Linked DNA regions of Homo sapiens: all the other regions are linked to region 3. The links come from fine-mapping of genetic effects on gene expression. A gene starts in region 3. Each other region holds a variant in brackets. All regions are shown on one strand. Distances are between the middles of the regions. Region 1 overlaps RSPO4 (R-spondin 4). Region 2 overlaps RSPO4 (R-spondin 4). Region 3 holds the start of RSPO4 (R-spondin 4). Region 4 has its middle 58 kb from the start of PSMF1. Region 5 has its middle 20 kb from the start of RSPO4.

The links.
Region 1: its variant is fine-mapped to the expression of RSPO4 in tibial artery (GTEx, PIP above 0.99). The same link has a PIP of 0.9 or more in ovary.
Region 2: its variant is fine-mapped to the expression of RSPO4 in cerebellum (GTEx, PIP 0.99).
Region 4: its variant is fine-mapped to the expression of RSPO4 in prefrontal cortex (ROSMAP, PIP 0.95).
Region 5: its variant is fine-mapped to the expression of RSPO4 in anterior cingulate cortex (GTEx, PIP above 0.99).

Annotation. Positions count from the first base shown.
Region 1 is chr20:955,006-959,153 of GRCh38, reverse strand. It overlaps RSPO4 (R-spondin 4), which reads left to right. Exons shown (of 5, transcript NM_001029871.4): 5 at 1-702. Among named protein-coding and RNA genes, the nearest start is that of ANGPT4, 41 kb to the right of the region's middle. The variant A/G (reference allele first, on the strand shown) is at 2,530.
Region 2 is chr20:973,322-977,321 of GRCh38, reverse strand. All of the region lies in intron 1 of RSPO4 (R-spondin 4), which reads left to right. Among named protein-coding and RNA genes, the nearest start is that of RSPO4, 27 kb to the left of the region's middle. The variant C/T (reference allele first, on the strand shown) is at 1,945.
Region 3 is chr20:1,000,136-1,004,273 of GRCh38, reverse strand. It overlaps RSPO4 (R-spondin 4), which reads left to right and starts at 1,963. Exons shown (of 5, transcript NM_001029871.4): 1 at 1,963-2,188. The coding sequence starts at 2,110.
Region 4 is chr20:1,058,782-1,062,929 of GRCh38, reverse strand. No RefSeq gene overlaps it. Among named protein-coding and RNA genes, the nearest start is that of PSMF1, 58 kb to the left of the region's middle. The variant G/A (reference allele first, on the strand shown) is at 2,233.
Region 5 is chr20:1,020,589-1,024,736 of GRCh38, reverse strand. No RefSeq gene overlaps it. Among named protein-coding and RNA genes, the nearest start is that of RSPO4, 20 kb to the right of the region's middle. The variant T/A (reference allele first, on the strand shown) is at 2,378.

The DNA.
Region 1 (4,148 bases), 45 kb after region 3:
CACTCGCCCACACCCACCACCACACTGCCCCACACCCACCACCACACTCCCCCACACCCACCACCACACTCGCCCACACCCACCACCAGTGACTTGAGCATCTGTGCTTCGCTGTGACGCCCCTCGCCCTAGGCAGGAACGACGCTGGGAGGAGTCTCCAGGTCAGACCCAGCTTGGAAGCAAGTCTGTCCTCACTGCCTATCCTTCTGCCATCATAACACCCCCTTCCTGCTCTGCTCCCCGGAATCCTCAGAAACGGGATTTGTATTTGCCGTGACTGGTTGGCCTGAACACGTAGGGCTCCGTGACTGGGACAGGAATGGGCAGGAGAAGCAAGAGTCGGAGCTCCAAGGGGCCCAGGGGTGGCCTGGGGAAGGAAGATGGTCAGCAGGCTGGGGGAGAGGCTCTAGGTGATGAAATATTACATTCCCGACCCCAAGAGAGCACCCACCCTCAGACCTGCCCTCCACCTGGCAGCTGGGGAGCCCTGGCCTGAACCCCCCCCTCCCAGCAGGCCCACCCTCTCTCTGACTTCCCTGCTCTCACCTCCCCGAGAACAGCTAGAGCCCCCTCCTCCGCCTGGCCAGGCCACCAGCTTCTCTTCTGCAAACGTTTGTGCCTCTGAAATGCTCCGTTGTTATTGTTTCAAGACCCTAACTTTTTTTTAAAACTTTCTTAATAAAGGGAAAAGAAACTTGTAAATGCTTCTTGAGCATCAAGAGGGTGTTGCAAAACCATGATACTGCTGAGTTTGGAGTAGCAGAATTTAAAACATGTGGAGTGGTTTTCACAGGAATGCTTGGGGCTGAGAGGGGTCAGAGTGTATTGGGGATTGGGGTGGGGTTTCAGCTTGGGGGGAGCTGATAAAAGAGGAGGGGCCCTCAGCCCCTCCAGGCTACTCTCAAGAAGCAGACTCAGCCAGAGGCAGAAGAGGGTGACACCTCGATCCCCAGAACCTCGCAGTTTCACGAACCAGATGTCTCAGGGACCAGGGGTACCTAGGAGGTTGACAGTCCCACGGGGCCATCTAAACACCCTGGGCTGCTGGTGAGAGTGGCCTTGGCATTGGGAGGCACAGGTGGGAGCTCCAGCCTGTCACCAGCTATCTGATGGGGTCCAGGTCAAGTCACTTCCCCTTCCGGGGCCTCAGTTTTCCCATGTGATGAATGTGATGAAGAGGAAGCCTGGCTAAATTAAATCTATTGCCGAAATCTGGAAGACCCAACAACAGAATCCCCTGGGGAGCCTTTTAGAAATTCAGGTTTTGGGGCCCTCCCCCAGATCTATTCATTGCAAACAAGTTTAGGAGCAGGCAGTGAGAGCAAACATTCTTTCCAGGACAAGCTGAGGGGAGAGGTGGCTCTCAGATGACTTCCAGCTCAGAGGGCTGAGTCTAGATTTGCAGCTGCAATTCTGATTCTGACCTCAAGGCTCAATGATCTGATTCTACAGAGTTTAGTCTGTATGTGTGTGTGTATGTGTGTGTATCTTTTTAATTTTTTTTTTTTTTTGGCAGGGTCTTGATCTGTCACCCAGGTTGGAGTGCAGTGGTACGATCACAACTCACTGCAGCCTCAAACTCCTGGCCTCAAGCAATCCTCTTGCCTCAGCCTCCCAAGTAGCTGGGACTACAGGTGTACACCACCACACCCAGCTAATTTTTTATTTTTTGTAGAGATGGGGGTCTCAATATGTTACCCAGGCTAGTTTTGAACTCCTGGCCTCAAATGATCCTCCCACCTCAGCCTCCCAAAGTGCTGGGATTACAGGCATGAGCCACTGTACCCAGCCCCTATATAAATAAATATATATATAAATATATATATATATACACACACACACACACACACACATACATACACTATATAGTGTTTTCTGTTAAGATTCCAGTTTTAGGATGCTGAACGTTCTAATTTTCACAATTCTAAAAGACCAACATAAGGGTAGAAGTTTCCAGTACTGCAATTCCCTGGCCATGTTCTTTCTTCTTGGGGGGCCTGGTCCTCTGTCCTCAGCTGGGGGCTGTGGTGGTTTTTTAATATTTTCAAATTACAGGATGAAATTTCTTCAGGGCCTAAGCCCCTCCTATAACCTTTCCATCTCAGACGTTCCCTGCCCCCAGCTCCAATCCTTTCAAATCCCAGCCTCTCCCACATTCTCTGGAGGATTGAGGGGCCTCTCTGGGAAGGAGACTCTGCTGTCAGGTGGGCATCGCCCACTCCCTTCTTACAAGCCAAGCTTGGAGAAGTTCACAGAGAAGCTCAGAAACAGGGTGAGGTCACACAGCCAAAGAGAGGCAGTCTGGGCAGAGCCCAGGGGGAGGTTCCGCTGCTATTGGCCTTCTGGATGCTATGCCAGAGGGAGAGAACAACCCCTTGGCCAGAGCTGAGGAATCCCTGGTGGGTTCTTCCTGTCACCGCTTCCAACTGGGCCACACTAGGGCCCTCTCTGCAGTTCCCCCCACCCGCTCACTCCATCCTCATCCTCACCACAGCCCTGCATGTCATTCCCACATGCTGCCACCGGATG[A/G]CGGCAGTCAACCAGGAACAGGTCGCAGCCAGGCTTGTCAAGGAGCGCATTTCTGAAACGGGGTCGTGTTGCGGTTCTCTCCTAGCAGGACTGGAGCAGGGTGGAGGGTAGCCGAGGGCAAGGGACAGGCTGCCTCAGACCGAAGGACTGACTGCCTCAGGCTGAAGGACAACAGTTGCAATGGGGACTTCAGCTGAATGGCCTTCTCAGCTGTGCAGAGAGTGTCAGACTCAGAGGTCCCTGTCCCAGGTCCTTCCTTGCACAGAAGGGAAATCTGACTCAGAGCATGACCTCCTGCCCAGACATCTGGCCCAGGTGACCTATGGGGATTACACCTCTCCATTTTCGCTTGGAAGAAAATTTCTTTTTTCTGTCTTTGTTTGTTTGTTTTTTAAGATGGGTAATAGCTCTATCGCCCAGACTGGAGGTCGGTGACATGATCCCGGCTCACTGCAGCCTCGACCTGCAGGGATCAGTTGATCCTCCCACCTCAGCCTCCCAAGTAACTGGGACTACAGATGCACACCACAATACCCAGCTATGTTTAAAATTATCTGTAGAGAAAGAGTCTTGCTATGTTGCCCAGACTGGTCTTGAACTCCTGGGCTCAAGCGATCCTCCTGCCTCAGTCTCCCAAAGTACTGGGATGACAGGTGTGAGCGACCGCACCCAGCCCAGAGGAAAATTTCAAGCCATCGTATGTGGACCTTCTAACTCAGGAAATGTGCATTCTTATAATACAAATAATAGTAATGATGAGGATGAGGATGATGACGTCATCTTATATTTATGGAGCACCTATTCTGCACCAAACATAGCTAAGCATTTCAGGTGCAATATCTAATTTCCTTTGCTTTTCTCTCTTCAGCATAAATCATAACTACCATTTTTCTACCAATTCCTCTTACTAACCTCGCATTTCCCACCTATCTCCTGCCACCTTCACAGCTACGTTGCCAGCTAACTTCTAGGAGGAAAAACTGAGGCTCAAGTTCAAGTCATTCAAAATCCATCAGTCTCACCCATTCATTCATTCCGTGAATATGCATAAAGTGCCTACTGTGTGCCTGGTACTGTCCTGGGTGCTGGTGATAAAGACCCTGCCTTGTCCTCCAAGCGTTCAGTCTGCAGACAGTCAATTCCAACAATGTGATAAGACCTTCCATGAGGACAGGATCTAGCATATCCTGTCTAAGGCATACAGGGGTTAGGGAGCTCCTCCTCCAGGACCAGATAGCCAAGCTGAGAATTAAAGAGTGCGAGGTGTTAATGAGATGGGTGGGGAGGGGGAGGAAACAGCACTTGCAAAATCCTGGAGAAGCTATTCATGGGGGCGCCAGCCCTGGAATTGCTAAGCCTCCTAAGCTGTCAGATCCTGGAACATGTGGACTCAGCCCTGGGGTCTGATGGCTCCCACTCAGCCCCCCATGACTCCCACCCTCACCCATAGCCATAGCCAACCTACCATCCACAAGGTGGAATGGATCCTCCAGCCAGACTTGTAGCTGAAGAAGCCTTCTCGCAAGTGGGTCTTCTAGTCCTTGCTGTTTTACCCGCTGCCCCTCCTTACCCCCCACTGCAGAACCCTCCCAGCCACAGAGTCCTCCCATCGAAGGCCC
Region 2 (4,000 bases), 27 kb after region 3:
TAACCCTGTTCCACACTAGTAGTTCTCAAAGTGTGGGCCCAGGACCAGCAAAGGTCAGCATCACCTGGGAACCTGTTAGCAATGCGGATTCTCAGGCCCTGCCCAGACCTAATGAATCAGCAACTCTAGGGTAAGGCCCAGCAGCCTGTGTTTTTAACAGGCTCTCTAGGTGAATCTGATGCATGCCCAAGTTTGAGAACCCCTGCTCTACATTGTTTTCTATTGTGAGTGAGTGAAGTGGGTGTTAAGATGTAGCTCAAGGATGATAACATAGGGCAGCTGACCTTTTCCCTCAGTATCTGAAATACAATAGGGAGGGGTAGGGTCTGCAGTAACCTGGGGAACATATGCCTTATTTATGTAACTCTAACCACTCACTGCCCTGTGACAGCAGACCCAGTGTTGGTAGATGTTCTGACTTTTTCCAGAGAAGTTCAAATTCCAGCTTTTTAATGTGAAATCTCTTGATTTTTTAAATGCTAGAAATCTATCCAAATTAGTCTTGTTTTTTTTAAAAAAAATGTATGGGGCTAGGCTTTCTGGCTTGGGTATTAAGGAAATTTCAATGACAGATTCACTGGGCTACTGAGGAGACGAGCTTGCCTAGGAGAACATGACATTTTCAGCGTCCCAGATGTCACCCTGCATTTTTGACCCCTCAGGGAAGTTCTGCAGAGTGAAGGCAGATGGAAGGCATGATATGGCAGAGATGACCCTAAGTTCACTCAAAACCCTGAAATGGAAAAAAAAAATACAGCGATCACTTGCACATGTTGAGCCGTTGACTCCTGTTGAAACAAGGTGCTTGGGGCAGTTCTCAGGATGTGGGTGAACCTGAGCTTAGGGACCCTTATTTGAAGGGCACAGGTTATTCCCTATTCCCAAAAGAAGGAATAAGCCTGCCCTTCACCTAGGACCAAAGCTGCTGGCTAGTATCTCTGCCCTGAGCACTTCACCATCCAGAGGGCAAAAGACCATGTCCCTGGACCCTGCTGGCCTCCTTCCAGCCTCACCAACATCTCTGGCTTTTGTTTGCTCACCTGGGAAAGAGGACAAGGGTCCAGATGTTGGTTGACAGTCCCACTGTGTGTCATGATGGTGAGGGAACAGGGAGGGAACCTAGGTTTACAGAGGAGCACCTACTGTGTGCCAGTGCTTGCTGGTTTGCACATCCCTCATAACAAATCACGTGGAGGTAGGAATTGCTGCCACAATTTTTCAGATGGGGAAACTGAGGCCCACAGAGACGAGGGATCTCATTCAATGAGTGATGGGGCCAGGATATCAACCTGGGAACCTGCATTGTTACACGTCTTTAGATTTTTAAGTCCCTTGAGGGCAGAAAACACATCATTCTCAATATAATAATGGTAGCTTCAGTTTATCAGATGCCTGCTGCAGGTGGTCTGAGCTAACAGTTTTTCACGTACCATCTCCTTTAATCACAACAGCCCTGCAAGATAAGCATTATTATCCCCATTTACAGCTGGAAAAACTGAGGCTTGTAGAGGTAAAGTACCTTGCCCAAGGTCACACAACTGCCCCAAAGCTCATAACCATTGAGTCCTAGCACTGGACCTTACCCAGAATAGGGGCTCAGTAATTGTTGAATGAATGGGTCGATGAATGAATGAATGGATCACTCAACCCTGGGTTAATGCACGCATTCAGAGTTGTCATAAGCCTTTATCACTTTGCAAACTGTCAAATCTGGTGTGTTTGATTCCACTCTCATTCTCCATAAAATGGACATCCAAATCTGGACTCATCCCTCGGGTGCTTGGGGAAACATGGAGTGACTCAGATTTCATTCTAAGCCTCTCCAGCTGCTGGAGCAACACAGGGCCATGCTTTTGTGGCCTACTGGTGTTTTGACTGAGGGAGGATGGTCTTGATTATGGGAGACAGTTGTTAATGGAAGTTACATGGGGTGCCTGCCATCCA[C/T]TGTGATGGCCCAAGAAAACTTGGGGAGGTTGCAACTAGAGCTTGAATGCTTTTAAAATGTGCATCTCAGCTGGGAGAGGACAGCGACAGAGGCCAAGATGTGTAGAAGGACCCAGGGGGTTTCAAAGTGTGCTCCCTGGAACCTCAGTGTCCCCTGGAGCACCAGGGTGATCAGGTTGGATAGGTGGTGCTCCAGGTTCCTCATCCGCGCCAAAGCAGCGCTGCTCCACCGTGATCTGTTCGCTGTCTAGTGAGCTACATCCATTTTTATTGTAATTTGACAGAAGAAAACCAGCTCAAGTGAAAAAGTCACTGGATTTGGAGCTATGGGACAAGCCAAGCTTTGGGAAGGACTGGGAGGCAGTCAGAAATTTTTTCTGTCTCAAGGAGCCCGTGAGGTTCTGGTTGCTGCTTCTCTCTCTGCATCTGATTTATTTTTCTCTCTCTACTTCTGTATTAGTCGGGAATCATCTGGTTGCAAGTGACAGAAAACCTAACTCAATGTGACCTGAGAAAAAAAGAGAATTTATGGATCCCCAGGGTGGATCCACATGCACAGATGACTCTTTTTGGTCTTTGTCTGTGTCTCTTGGCTCTGTTTCTGCTGTATGGCCTCCATTCTCCAGAGGCTCTTCCCTCATGTGGCACCCACCAGCTCTGATCTATATCCTCCTAGATCCAAAGAGAGGAAAGGAAAACACACACATCTCCACACACATCCATTGACCTCAGCAAAAACCCCAAGACTAGCTCTTGTGGGGATGTGAGCCTGTGTCTGAACCTACAACCACTGTAGTCAAGGGGACCTGATGCTCTGATTGGCCAAGCCCAGGTTAAGTGCATCTGGGTGGATATGGCAGCACACGAACCTCAATGCCAGAGAGTGCAGAGGAGCAGAGCCTCTGTTAGCTAGTGCCCACCAAGGCTTCTCACACATGTGCATTGGAACAGGCTACCCTCCCACCTGCAGATCGCCTTAGGTCAAGGCCAGCGCAGACCATTGTCCATCAGCCCAGAGAGAGATGGTCTAATTGGCCCATCCTGGAAGAGACAGCCATTGGTTAGGGTCAGAGTCATGCCCTACAAACAGGATTACTGGGGCCAGTTCTCAGGGAAAGGAAACTGTGAACAGGGAAGACACTTCCAAAATTCTGTTACATTTATTTTGGACTTGTTAAAGTGCACATTCCTGGCCCACAGCAGACGCTTTACAAGCCTCTCTGGAGATTGTTATCACAGTCAAGTTTAAGAACCTTCAAGTTTGGATCTTTCTAGAGCAGCACTCTACAGACTCTTGTCATCACTGATGATTCACAGAATGAACATTCAAGCGCCTGCACCCGTGACTTTAGGGCAGGGGGTAGAGAGAGGCAGTAGCACTGCTTTTTCTAATGAGTTACAGAGACATGACGAAACACCAGACAGGCTACCGGAAGTCAAAAAGCAAGAGGTGCCATTACAACATAGAGGCACAAGAGGGCATCCTAGCCAACTGCCAGGGTCGAGGATGAGGCCAGAAACAGCCACTACCCTTCAAAGACCAGGGTATTGACCTTCAAAGACCAGGGTATTGAAGGATGCTAAGCACCATCCAGTGGGCCAGCACTCTATGAGGCCTGGGAGGGGCTTGTTGGGTTCTTTGGCCTTCAGCATATACTGTAGCTTTTTGAGGTCAGGAGGTCGAGACCAGCCTGGCCAACATGGCGAAACCCCGTCTCTACTAAAAATACAAAAAAATTTAGCTAGGCTTGGTGGGGGTGCCTGTAATCCCAGCTGCTCGGGAGACTGAGGCACGAGAATCGTTTGAACCTGGGAGACGGAGTTTGCAGTGAGCTGAGATCGCACCACTACACTCCAGTCTGGGCAACAGAGTGAGGCTCCATCTCAAAAACAAACAAACAAACAAACAAACAAACAATAAAACAAACAAAAAACAAATAGTGCTATAACTCTAACTGAGGACTGAGGCTTCTTTGCAGTTGGCTGCCTGACTTTGGGGAAAGCTCCACCCCTTCTGGCCTCAGTGTCCCCAGTGAAACTGCAGGAGTTGTGCTGA
Region 3 (4,138 bases):
GGGGCAGTGGGAAAGACTGAGATCAGAGATATCAGAACAAGAGGTCCTTGCAGGCCATGGTGATGACCACAATGGGACACCTGGATGCCCATGTCAGCTCAGTCCTTGACTCACTGGGTGGCCTAATCTAGGCACCCCCCAGTCCTGAAGGCTCAGTGGCCTCATCTGTGAAATGGAGCACTTTGGGTGGGCTGTCTCTGACATTCCACCAAGTTCTCCGTGTTGTCTGCCAGCGTTCTTGGGGCCCCACAGAAAGAATGGCCAGGCCAGGGCTGTACCTTCAGCTGCCACACTCTCTGTGTGTTTCCCCTGCCCCTGCCATGCCTTCAAGTGTCCCTCATTGCACTGGGAGAAGGAGCTGGAGGAGATACCAGCATTTACCTTCCATTTCTTTTGGAGCAAGCTCCACATGTAGGAAAAAAGAGGACAGGCTGGGTGGGGTGGCTCACGTCTGTAGTCCCAGCACTTTGGGAGGCTGAGGCAGGTGGATCACTTGAGGTCAGGAGTTCAAGACCAGCCTGGCCAACATGGTGAAACCCCGTCTCTACTAAAAACTACAAAAATTAGCTGGGTGTGGTGGCAGGTGCCTGTAATCCCAGCTACTTGGGAGGCTGAGGCAGGAGAATCACTTGAACCCAGGAGGCAGAGGTTGCAGTGAGCCGAGATGGCGCCATTGCACTCCAGCCTGGGTGACAGAGTGAAAACCCATCTCAAAAAAAAGAAAAAAAAAAGAAAAGAAAAAGGAAGGACAATTGTTCAGCAAGAGAGTGTCAACTGTAAGTTTCTCTAGGCCTCCCTCCAAGGCCTCTTCCATTCTGATGAGTCTGTGCCTGAGAAGTGGCTAAGAGGGGCAGGCACTGGACCAGAATGGCCACTGACCTGCTGTGTGGCCTTGGGCAAGTCACTTGGCCTCTCTGAGCTTCCCTTTGCTCCCCAGAAAAGTGGAATTACTCAGAATACAAACCCAAACCATTGGGTTGTTTTGAAGACTCTAGTATATGTCAAGTTCTTAGCAATGCCCACCATATATGCCTCACAAATGATAGCTAGCATGATTGTTGTTGTTTTTGGTGGTTATAGTGACAGGAGAGGTGAGCATGCTGTCGGGTTGAAGGAGGAATTTTGCTCTGAAAGGGTTAAACTTGAACCAGCTGCTCCCAGTCCTGGTGATAAGGTTGGAGGAAACACAGTCCAGGTCCCCAGCCCTGTCACAAGTGGATTTATGAGGTGCTGGTCACTTTGAGTCGGAGTAGATGATCCCCGCAGACTGCACAGGAAACATTCAGGGTTAGTGGCCAGAAGGGGCTCAGGCCTCTGTTAAAAGAATGAGACAGAGTAGAGAGAAAAAGAGAAAGCCAGGCAGCAGGAGCCCCGCAAACACCCCACCCTGCAGGAGGGGAGAAGGGGAGAGATGGGGTTGAAGGGAGAGACAGAGAAAAGGGAGAACCAGAGGCCCAGCCAGGAGGACACAGACAGTGAGCCTGAGAGAGAGACGGCCGGCAAGAGTAAAGGATGCAGGAACAGCCAGGCAGGGTCGGGGGCAGAGCAGGGGAGCGCGGGCCGCGGAAAGACCGAGAAAGCAGGAGACAAGGAGTTGTCCTTAAGGGCCAGAAGGAGGAACAGACAGAGAAAGGGGACTGGGGGGAGGGAAAGAAAATCACAGGCGCTGAGAGGGCGCGGGGGACCGTACGGGTCTCCGGGTGTCCGCGCATCTGTACCTGCGCGCGCGTGCGTACCTGTGGCTGGCGGTGGGCACGTGCACGTGCTCGGGGGCAGTGCTGGGGGCGGGAAAGACGCAAGACCGCCGGCTGCGGGACAGATCGAACTCGAGGGCCCCGACCCGGGTGACCCCCGCCCCCTCCCCGCGCGCGCTCCCGGGCCCCGAGCTGGTTAACGCGCCGCCCCCGCCGCGCCGGCTCCTCCCCGCCAGGGCAGTGCCCCGGCTCCGCCAACGCCCTCACTAGACCTGGCGGCCGGACCGACCCGCGCCTGGCGGATGCGCCCGGCGCGCCCACAGCAGCCCCCGCGCCCGCCGTGCCGCCGCCGGGACGTGGGGCCCTTGGGCCGTCGGGCCGCCTGGGGAGCGCCAGCCCGGATCCGGCTGCCCAGATGCGGGCGCCACTCTGCCTGCTCCTGCTCGTCGCCCACGCCGTGGACATGCTCGCCCTGAACCGAAGGAAGAAGCAAGGTACAAGGGGTGGCTGGGCAGGGCGGCCGGGCAGGCGCTGCGGGGCAGACCGGGGGCCGGAGGACCGGGGGCGGCGGCTCTGGGGGCATCTGCCTGGTGCCTGGCGCCCTGGGTCCTTCGCTCCTCCAGACGAGTCTCAACCTCACTTAAGATGGGGAGATTGAGGCTCCAGGGCACCCAGTGAGCGAGCCATTGAGTAGGGTGGGCCAAGGAGACTCACCCAGAAGGGAGAGGGTAGCAGGGCTCTCTGTAGTAGCCGCATGGTCAGCAGAAAGGAGGATGGCTTCGTGCAGAGACAGAAGACTCAAGAGCCAGCCTGCGGGGCACAGGGACTAGGAGACAGACTCAGTGGCGTAGAAGCCATTCCAAGCATCCATGCTCGGCCAGGAAGTGACATAGAGAGCCTTGGGCTGGGCGTCCAGAGGCCCCAGTCCCAGCCTCATCACTCACCCTGACTCCTGGTGTCACCTCCCAGAGGGCAGTGATCCTCCATGGCCCCCCTATGTTGAGTTCAGCCAGACCTGAGACCTGAGTTCAGGTTCACTTATTCTAATAGGGGATGACCTAGAAGAAGTCCAGCCCCTCAGAGAGCCTCAGCTTTTCCATCTTCACCTCTCAGGCCACTAGGAAGATGAGCCAAGGTTCAGATTATAAATGTACCAGGGGCCGCATGCGCTCTCACCTGGGAGTCCTATGCCACAGCCTCGCTGTGAGAGTCAGAACATCCTCAGAAGGTGGGTTGGAGGCTGTCCCTGCAGAGCAGGAGTTGGTAGAGCCTGTGCCTCAGAGAAGGGTAAGCGGGTGAGCAAGTGAGCAAATCGCCTGCCTGAGCTGGGCAGCCCTTTGGCCTCCAGGTGCCACTCTTAAGATCAGCAGCCGAATGCCAGCCACTATGCCACGGGTTTTTCATGTCCTAGCTCATCAAATCCCAACTATATGCTCATGACATAGGGGTCGTCCAGTTTTAATAAAGCCTGGGATTCCAAGGCTCAGACTGGTTTAAATAACTGCTGAATTGTCCAGCTGGTGTCTTCTCTCTTTCCAGCCCTGGCATCGGGTCTGAGCAAGGATAAAGGGGAAGGAAAATGAGAGAGGATGGGTTGCCCTCTGGGGCCTTCCATTTGTGTGAAAGCCCTACAGCGACACAGTCACTCCTGGAACGGAGCAGGAAGCAGACAGAGGCTGTGGGAGAATTGGGAGGTGGGATTGGATGGGGTTGGGGAGACTGTGGCCCAAGAGGCTCCAGTTCTTGCTGTGACAGTGGGACAAGGGACTAGAGAGGCGTGTGGTTTTCAGCTGAGCTGGGGTGAGTTTGGGACTCTATGGGGACACTCCTTTGTGAATGGCCTTTGTTTAGTAGTTAGGGGCATGGGCTCTGGAGCCAGGTCAACTGAGTTCAAATCCCAGCTTCCCCAGTTACCAACTGAGTGACTTTGGATAAGTCACTTTGCCTGTCCAATCCTCACTTTACCCATCTGAGGGTCCTTTAGAAGATCTCTGAGATCTTTCTCCATTCTAAACAATACCAAAAAATCAAACAAACCCCCTTTCCCTTCATCAACCCATCTTTTACTTAAGTATCCTGCTCATAAGGAGGATTGTGGGCAAGATGAGTAGCTAAGGACACAGGCTCCTAATGGGTGCTCGTAAGTATTAATCATTCTCATTTCCTGTCCACTGTGTCTTTGGCTACTCACAGTGGCTTAGTGGAGGGAGGGGAGAGATGCTTGTTTTCTGGATGAGGGAACTGAGGTTCAGAGAAGGAAACTGACTTGTCCAAGGTCGCACAGCAGGTGAGTAGCAAAGCAGGCTCGAATCCCAATCTGCCTGACATAATGCTGAGAAGATATCTTCTGAGGTGTGCTGGTCTTCCCTTCTCAGAGCCTCAGTTTCCTCATCTAAAGAGGAGCTGGTTTAGGCCAGGTGTGGTGGCTCACGCCTGTAATACCA
Region 4 (4,148 bases), 59 kb before region 3:
CTGTGGGAGTGAGACCCAGCAATCTATGTGTTAACAAGCCCTCCCTGTGACGGTGATGCATGCTAAGGTTTGAGAAACCTGAGACAGAAAGAGCATAGGGGGTGGGAAGGAGGAGAGGAGCTCACATGTGAGTCCTGAGTCAGCTGGCATCTAGAAACCAGGTAGATGGGGAGAAGCCAGCAGAGGAGACTGAGGAACAACCAGGGCTGTGAGCATACAGAAGCCCAGACAGGATCATGTATCAAGGAGGGTGCTGCCAACTGGATTGAATGCTCAGGGAATTCAAATAAAATAAGATCAGGAAAATGAGTACTGGATTTGGCAGCATGCAATCCTGGTTGGCTTGGCAGAAGCTGTTTTAGCACAATCGAAGCAAGTCCCTGGAGGAGGAAATGGTCTTGCAGGCTTGCGCTTGGCATGGACTTGGGACTCAGGCTGGGCTCAGACAGTAATTGCTTTTCCTTTCACCTTCGGAAAGTTCATTGTTGAACAAATGCGAAGTATTATTCTCTTCCAATATTGATTTTTTCTTAATAAGTCATGAATAATAATAAAAGTAGATTATTATTTTATAAGCTTGTGGCCTTCAGAGTGCTACTGGCAATCCAAATTTTCACAAAAATTCTGTGAGGTAGAAAGTTAGATCAGGAGTAGATATTGTGAGTTGATTACACAGCAGCCAATTCTTACCCCCTTCTCGTTTGCTGCTTCCCCCAAAGGAGGCTGAACAACAACAACAACAAAACCCTGATATTGGCATTCCCACTTCACTTTCCTGCTAGAGTGGCCATATGATCCATGTCTGCCCAGTAAAATGTAAAGGGAACCTTCTGTGAGACTTTAGGGAAGACACTGTGGAAATATTAAGGTTGGTGCAAAAGTAATTGCTGTTTTTGCTGTTGGTGCAAAAGTAATTGCTGTTTTTTCCATTGAAAGTAATGGCAAAAACCACAACTACTTTTGCACCACAATTTGCCATTGAAAGTAATGGCAAAAACCACAATTACTTTTGCACCAACCTAGTAGAATGGGGAAAGGGAAGGAGGAGAAATGAGAGGGTATGAGTGAGCACTTAGTCCTTACATCACTGAGCCAATAAACCAGCCCTGGAGCTTCTTGCTTCCAGGCATCTAGTTTGTGAGATATTATTGTTTTAGCTACTATTAGGGGTTCTGCTACTTGCAGCTGCAAGCATTTCTAACTGATATGGGAAGATGTTTTTATTTACTTTTGGCAGATAAGAAAACAGCAGTAGAAAAAAGATAAGATTTTCTTAGGGCCTCACAGCAGTGAGTGGCAAGGCCAGGCAGGGTTGGGTTTGGATTCAGGGACTCACCCATACAAGCTTGTTTGTTGGGTCACTATCTCCTGGTGGCAAAGCCTACAGCCATGCAAATCTTTGAGGAGATGACATCTCAGCTGAGATCTGAAAGGGATGGGAAAGGTGTATGTCAGACAAAAAGTACAGTGTGTTCAAAAGACTGAAAGGCTACAAAGGGCTGAAGGTTGCAGGAATTGACCTTGAGCACTGGGCTGATGAGGAAGGGTCTTGAAATGAGTTTGGAGAGGTTGGTGTTCACCAGAAAGCATCTGTGTCACAGTAAATCATACTATTCCTAATTTTCACCTTTTCCTATATCCATGCCCTTTGCCACATGACTCATCAATTTTCTCCACATCTAATTGATGTTGAGCTTGGCCATGTGACTTGCTCTGGCTGATGGAACATGGGCAGAAGTGACAGCACACCAGCTCTGAGCTAAAGCCTATGAGGTCCTGCCTGCTTCCAGCTGTCTTCTGTGGGTCAAGGAGGATGAGAGACGCGTGGAGCAGATCCGCATGCATGCCTGGAGCCCAGCCCAGTCTAGACCACCAGAATCCCAGCTGACCTACAGACCCATGAGTGAGAAGAAGTTATTGTTTTAAGCCACTGAGCTTAGTGGTAGTTAGTTTGCAGCATTGTTGTGACAATCGCCGAGTGAGATAAATGGGAATGCATGACAGTGGGAAAGGTAAATAATATAATCATACTGCCTCATAATCTAGGAGGAAAGTCAGTCATAAACACATAAAATCTAGAATGATTGATAAATAAAATGATAGAGGGAGGTACATGAAGTTGTGGGAAGATGGAAGGGGAGCCTAGCGTCATGGAGAAGGACAGCCAGAGAAGGCTTCCTGGAGGATGTGGCAGCATTATCCTGATGGGCAGAATGGAGTGGGGTGACAGGT[G/A]GGAGAATGGTGTCAGAGGGCACAAGATTACCAAGCTTATGCAGACGTGGAGGCATGAGAGGGGATGCCACATGTCAAGGGTGACTGGGAGTTGCTCTTTGGCAGTGACCTCTCTACCCTGTGCTCTGCTATTCACAAACATCTCATGGCAGGTAAAATCTACCAACTTGAGTTAGTTTTGTTTTTTTTTTTTCTTTCCAATCAATTGCTTGAGCCTCTCCATGCCTTATTAAGAAGTCTTGGTGTGTTCCCAGCTGAGATACTCATCCCATCTCCCCAAGTTTTCCAGGGACTTTATTCAAACATCAAGTGGAAGGAACTAGTAGAGCTCAGTCTGCAGCCATTTCTGCCTCTTGCAGCCACATGGTGCCTCTGTTGAACCCTGGCCCATGCAGGCGGATGAGGAGACTGCTTCCAGGGGCCCAGGGCCTTTCCTGGGCTCACTGGTGTCCTCTGCTTGTGTTCTAGGGTTTTAGCTCCTTCTGGTCTACATACCCATGCTCATCATTGTTCCTCTGATAGGGTAATGTGAGAATTAAATGACTAATGTGGGTAAAAAATTTGGAATAGTGCCTGGTGTATGTTAAGCATGCAGTAGATGCTACTTGTTTTCATTAGTCCTCACAGCATCACTTCTGTACAAGTGTGAGTTGGTTCAAAGAGACTTTTAGCCTCAGCCCTATAATGTGCCCATCTGAAACCCTCTCCATGAACCCATGGCCCTTAGTATGAATGGGGTGGAGGGACAGAGGAGACATCTTTTCTTGAGGGTCGTCTTTCCTCCAGACCTTAGCTTGGGCCACCCTGATCCACCAGGACAGGTCTCCCTAACTGTGGTTGCCATTATGTTAAACTGCTTGGAATCAAAGAAGTGACCCCAAGTAAAGTGGCACTCAGAACTGAGCTGACCCTGAAGGACTTGACAGCTGAAGGCGGGGGAAGCATGGTCAGCAGAGAGCCTTCAGCTTCAGCCCCTTCAAGGTTAGCCTCAGCTTGAGAGGGCCACTTCATCCCAGGCCATGCCCTTCCTGGGGCAACCTGTATTTGGTGAATAGTGAACTATCAAAATGAAGGGGCTGAGACAAAAGTCTGGATATTTTGATATCTTTTGGGATTCTCTGAGGGGTAACTCTTTTTAATTTTAATTTTTGTGGGTACATAGTAGGTATATATATATTTATGGGGTACATGAGATGTTTTGATACAGGCATGTAATTCATAATAATTACATCATGTAGAACGGGGTGTCTATCGAGGGATAATTCTTGCTCCCAACTTCCTCACCATGTTGACCAACGCTTTACTGGGTCACATTGCAGTTAAGTATCTCCTCCTCCTCAACCCTGATTCCTGCCCCTTTCTTTTCCAGATATTGATTCCTAATAAACACCTTGCACCTAAACTCTGTCTTCGTGTCTGCCTGCATAGAACCCAACCTGCAACACAAATTCTGATTCCTGGAGGTCAGGTATTGGCTTTTCCACTTCTTCTTCCTATAAGATCCAGGTCTTCTTATGCATATGGTTCTCCCAGGCATGAGCCTGGCAAACAATGGAGTAAGGTGAAGGGGGAAGCTGTCAGGCCTCAACAGCCTCCACTGCACCCTATCCCAGACAAATGATGCCAGCTCACCTGGCATTCACACAGCTAGTGTGTCTTTCCTTGGCCAAAAGAGTCTAAGGCATCTTGTTGTTTCCTCCTAGTCAGAGCAATGAGTGGTGGCTTCTGTCACCTCATTATACACTGTACTTACTTGTTCTTCATCTGTCTGTCCCATTAGCTGGGGAGTTCCCCCTTTCCTTGAGGATATGCAATATTTTACTCATATCTATACAGAGAATAAATGTGTGTCGAATGAATGCCTATGAGTTTTGCTTCCTCCCCTGGACTGTGAGATCCTTGAGGATGGAAATTAT
Region 5 (4,148 bases), 20 kb before region 3:
TCAGCCTCCCAAAGTGTTAGGATTACAGGCGTGAGCCACTGCGCCTGGAAAGTTTGTTTTGTTTTTACCGTAAATGTTACATATTATTGTTCTGTGACTTGCTATTTTCTTTTGATAATGTATCTTGGAGATCTGACCACATCAGTATGAAAACACTATTTTTTTAAAGAAGAACACACAATATTTCACAGTCAGAATAAACCATAACTTTATTAGTGTAGTATTGTTTGGCATTTAGGTCATTTCCAACTTTTGCCATTTAAACAGCACTACAAAAACACTCTTTGACCCATTCCTTTGAATATTTGTATGTCTCAGTCGAGCGTATGGCTAAAGGAGGAATGTCTGCATCAGTGTTTGTGCATTTTCATTCTAATAAATGTTGCCAAATTGCCTGCCAAATATATGACCCCAGTTTACACACTGTCCATTCATTCACTCATTTATTTATTGACTCACATACTTGATAAATATTTATCAAGGATCTACTCTGTTCTGGGCACACTGTTCTAGGTTCTGGGAATTCAGCAGTGATGAGGAGGTAGTCCTTACTCTCATGGAACTTGCAATCTGGTCAGAGAGAGAGATCCCCAACACGTAGAGACGTATATATATGGTGTGTCAGGTGACGAGAAACGCTAAAAGTAAGTTAAGGTGTCTGAGCATGCCTATTTCCCCACACTGTGACCAACACTGATATTACCCATTCTTCTGATATTTTTTTCTAATTTGATAGCTATTTCCCCTATTGTGAATTGTGTTCTTATCCCTTTTTGCCCATTTTATTGATGGAGTGTTTTTTTCCTTTGTCCTTATTGATTTGTGGGAGCTCTTATTTTATTGTGGATTTTAATCCTCCGACTATTAAATATGTTGCAACTATTTACCCCAGCCTGTTAAATGTTGAGCACCTGTAATTTGAAAATCTGAAATTGAAAATGCTCCAAAATCCAAAATTTTTGAGTACCAACATGATGCCACAAGTAGAGAACTCTATACCTGACCTCACGTGACAGGTTGCAGTCAAAATGCAGGTGCACAACACACAGAAAAATAAAATTACCTTCAGGTAACTTGTATAAGGTATACACGAAACATGAATGAATTCTGTGTTTAGACTTGGGTCCTATACCCGAGGTAGGACTGTATATGCAAATATTCCATAATCCAAAAGAATCTGTTATCTGAAACACTTCTGGTTCCAAGCATTCCAGATAAGGGATACTCAACCTGTCTGGTTTTTATATTTGCTCATGGTATTTCACAAAGTCCTTTTGATGGGGAACCACAAGGAAAATTGTTTCAGACTTTTATTCTAAGAAAAGTTGGGCTTCTTCTCAGGAACCGGGTTGTTTTTTTTTTTTTTCCTACAAATCCACGTAACTGCATTTTCTTTTTCTTGCTTTGGCTACAAAGAATCTCAGAACAAACTTGTCTGTTCACCTTTAGCAACTGTCCAGAACTTTACAGCAGGCATTCAATAACCTAACCTCATCCTTGAGTTCACCTTTTCTCCCCCTTCTCACAATTTCATTATCTCTTTCTTTTCCTAATCTCTGGCTTTAATACATTTGTAAGCTGTCTTAAATCATTTTTGCAACAAGGTTGGGCATAAATAAATGATTTTGTTTCCCACTCACTGCAGCCCATTTCACAGATGATAAAACTGAGTCCCAGAGAAGGGCAGCAACCTGATCCAGGGCTGCAGTGAGTCAATGGGGAAGAAGAGACTCTCATTCAACCTCTCCATGCTTGGTGGGTTCCTTTCCTGCTCTGTCCATTTCTGAAGAGATCACTTGTCTCTCATTTGCCAACTGTATTAATCAGAAGTCTGTATTAATCAGAATTGCCAAGTGACAGAAATCCTGTTGAATAAACAAAGAGAATTACTTATTCCCTTATTGCCCCATAAGGTGCAAACCAAATGGAGTTCAGGCATGGTTTGATCCAAGTACATGGACAGGATCAGAAGCAGGCCTCCGTCCACACTCAGCTTTGCATCTCTTTTTGCTTGGTAATATCATCCTTTCCTGCTTCAGACAGCTTCATTCCATGTGGCATAAATATGACACCAGCAGCCCCAAGGCTACATCCTGACACATGAAGATGGAGACCCTCCCCTATAGCCCCAGCAGAAAAACAGGGCCCCACTTGGAAAGCTCTCCCCTGGTAGGCAAAGTGACAGACATCTTGATTGACAACTCCATCCTGTCTCTCGGAGTCAGGGAGGAGTTCCCCAGAGACAGGAACATGGGAAAGTGTGGAGGACAGACACACTCTTCAGTGACCAGTGCCTATTGTCCCAGGGAAACAAAAGACTCCCAATCAGCAGGGGAAAGAGATGCTCCTCCCAAGCACAAATCAGCCAGTGAGTGAC[T/A]TTGGTCTTTCTTCAACAGAAACTCATCTTCTTCCCTCCTGCTCTTGAGCTCTTGGTGGCTTTCAGGGATAAACTACCACCATCGCCTTCAATAACAGCATCTTTCAACTCATTCTGCCTCCACATCCTGCCTTTTGCTGTTTCCTGTCCCCTTCCTATCACCTAGCCAAATGCTAGCATCTCTTCTTCAGGGATCCTTGCTTGAATAACCCAACCAGGAATGTCTTTCTCTTCTGAACTTCATACCCCATCCAAATACATTTTTTAAAACTAACAATGACTATGTGCTTGGCTTTACTGGAAAAGACAAAAAAAAAAAAGTCTCAGAAGGTGCATCAGATTTGACCGGAAATACCATTTCAGAGGATTGGCTGAGTAGTTTCTGGGAGGCTGTTTTCATGCTAGAGAAAGCAAACAACATACCTATCATGGTCCCCAAGGTTGTTTAGAAGACCAAATAAGAAAATAAATGGGAAGAGAAGGCAGTTAATATTTATTAAACACCTATTATGTACTAACACTGGCAAGCTTGTTATGTACATAATCTAGTTGAGACCTTCCCCAAACCTTGCCAGGTAAATATCAATTTAAAGACAAGAAAACTGATGTTCAGAGAGGTGAAGTGGCTCACCCAAGATCACACAGCCAGAGACTTGAAGAACTGGGATTTGAATTATCCAGCTGTCCTGTTCTCTTTCCACTCATTCCCTAATAAACACCCCCCATTATTAAATGATGACTCACACTACAGAAATGTCTCCTAATTAAATTTGAAAATAGGAAAAGCATTTGGAATTACTCTGAGGAGGCTAGCCTTAGCAGAATTACTTCCATACCAAGAATTTGTTCCCCAGCTATGTAGCAGCTGGATTTTTTTTTCATTTTTTGATGTTCCCAATGAGTGGAATGTAAGAAGCACAGAAGATGACCAGTTTCCACACTTCACTTCCTTCCCAGGCTGCCTCAAACCCTTTGTCCAACAGGGACATATAAATCAATTGATCAATCAAGAAACGAATCAATGAATTAATAAGTCCCCACTTTTGCAAGATATGCTTGTTTGGGGGCATTTATTGACCCACGGTGGACACACCAAAGTCCTAGGCTTTGTCTCCCAAAACACGGTGACAGTCAGTGGGGAAAGCTGGTTTGTCTTATAGCCAACAGTCCAAGAACACATCTGTTGCCAGGCTCCACGTCAAGCCACTGAAATTGTATGGGCGCTTTTCTCTTTCCTACCATATAGAGTTGTAGTAAAATAAGCTGGGTTTGAATATCCTGGCTTCATCCTCTCTGTGATCTGAAAGGCATTCCTTCACTGAGCCTCTGTTTCCTCACAAGTAGAAAGATGGGCTGTGCTGGGTGATTGTGAAGCTGGCCTCCAAAACTGGCCCTGAGTGAATCTGCAACTGCCTCTCACTCTGAGTCTGGTGCCTAGTAGGTACTCAAACAAATAATTTCTTGGGAGGTTGAATCTGAGTGGAGTGAAACGTTAGACTATGGGACTTGAGAGTTGGGCAAATCTGGTGCCACCTCTCAGCCATGTGACCTCAAGCACACACCACATGACCTCTCTGGGCCTCCGCTTACTCTTCAGCAAAAGGGAGCTGCTGATGGCACCTTCAGAGGGTGGTGAAGCTGAACCGGCTAAGGTATGTGAATGGTGCTCACTGACGGTTCGCCCCTTCCTTTCTTTACCTAAGGAAGGACAGGCTTATCACCTATAGAAGCTGAGGCATGGATCTCAGCTGTTTAACCCACAAGTTTTCAC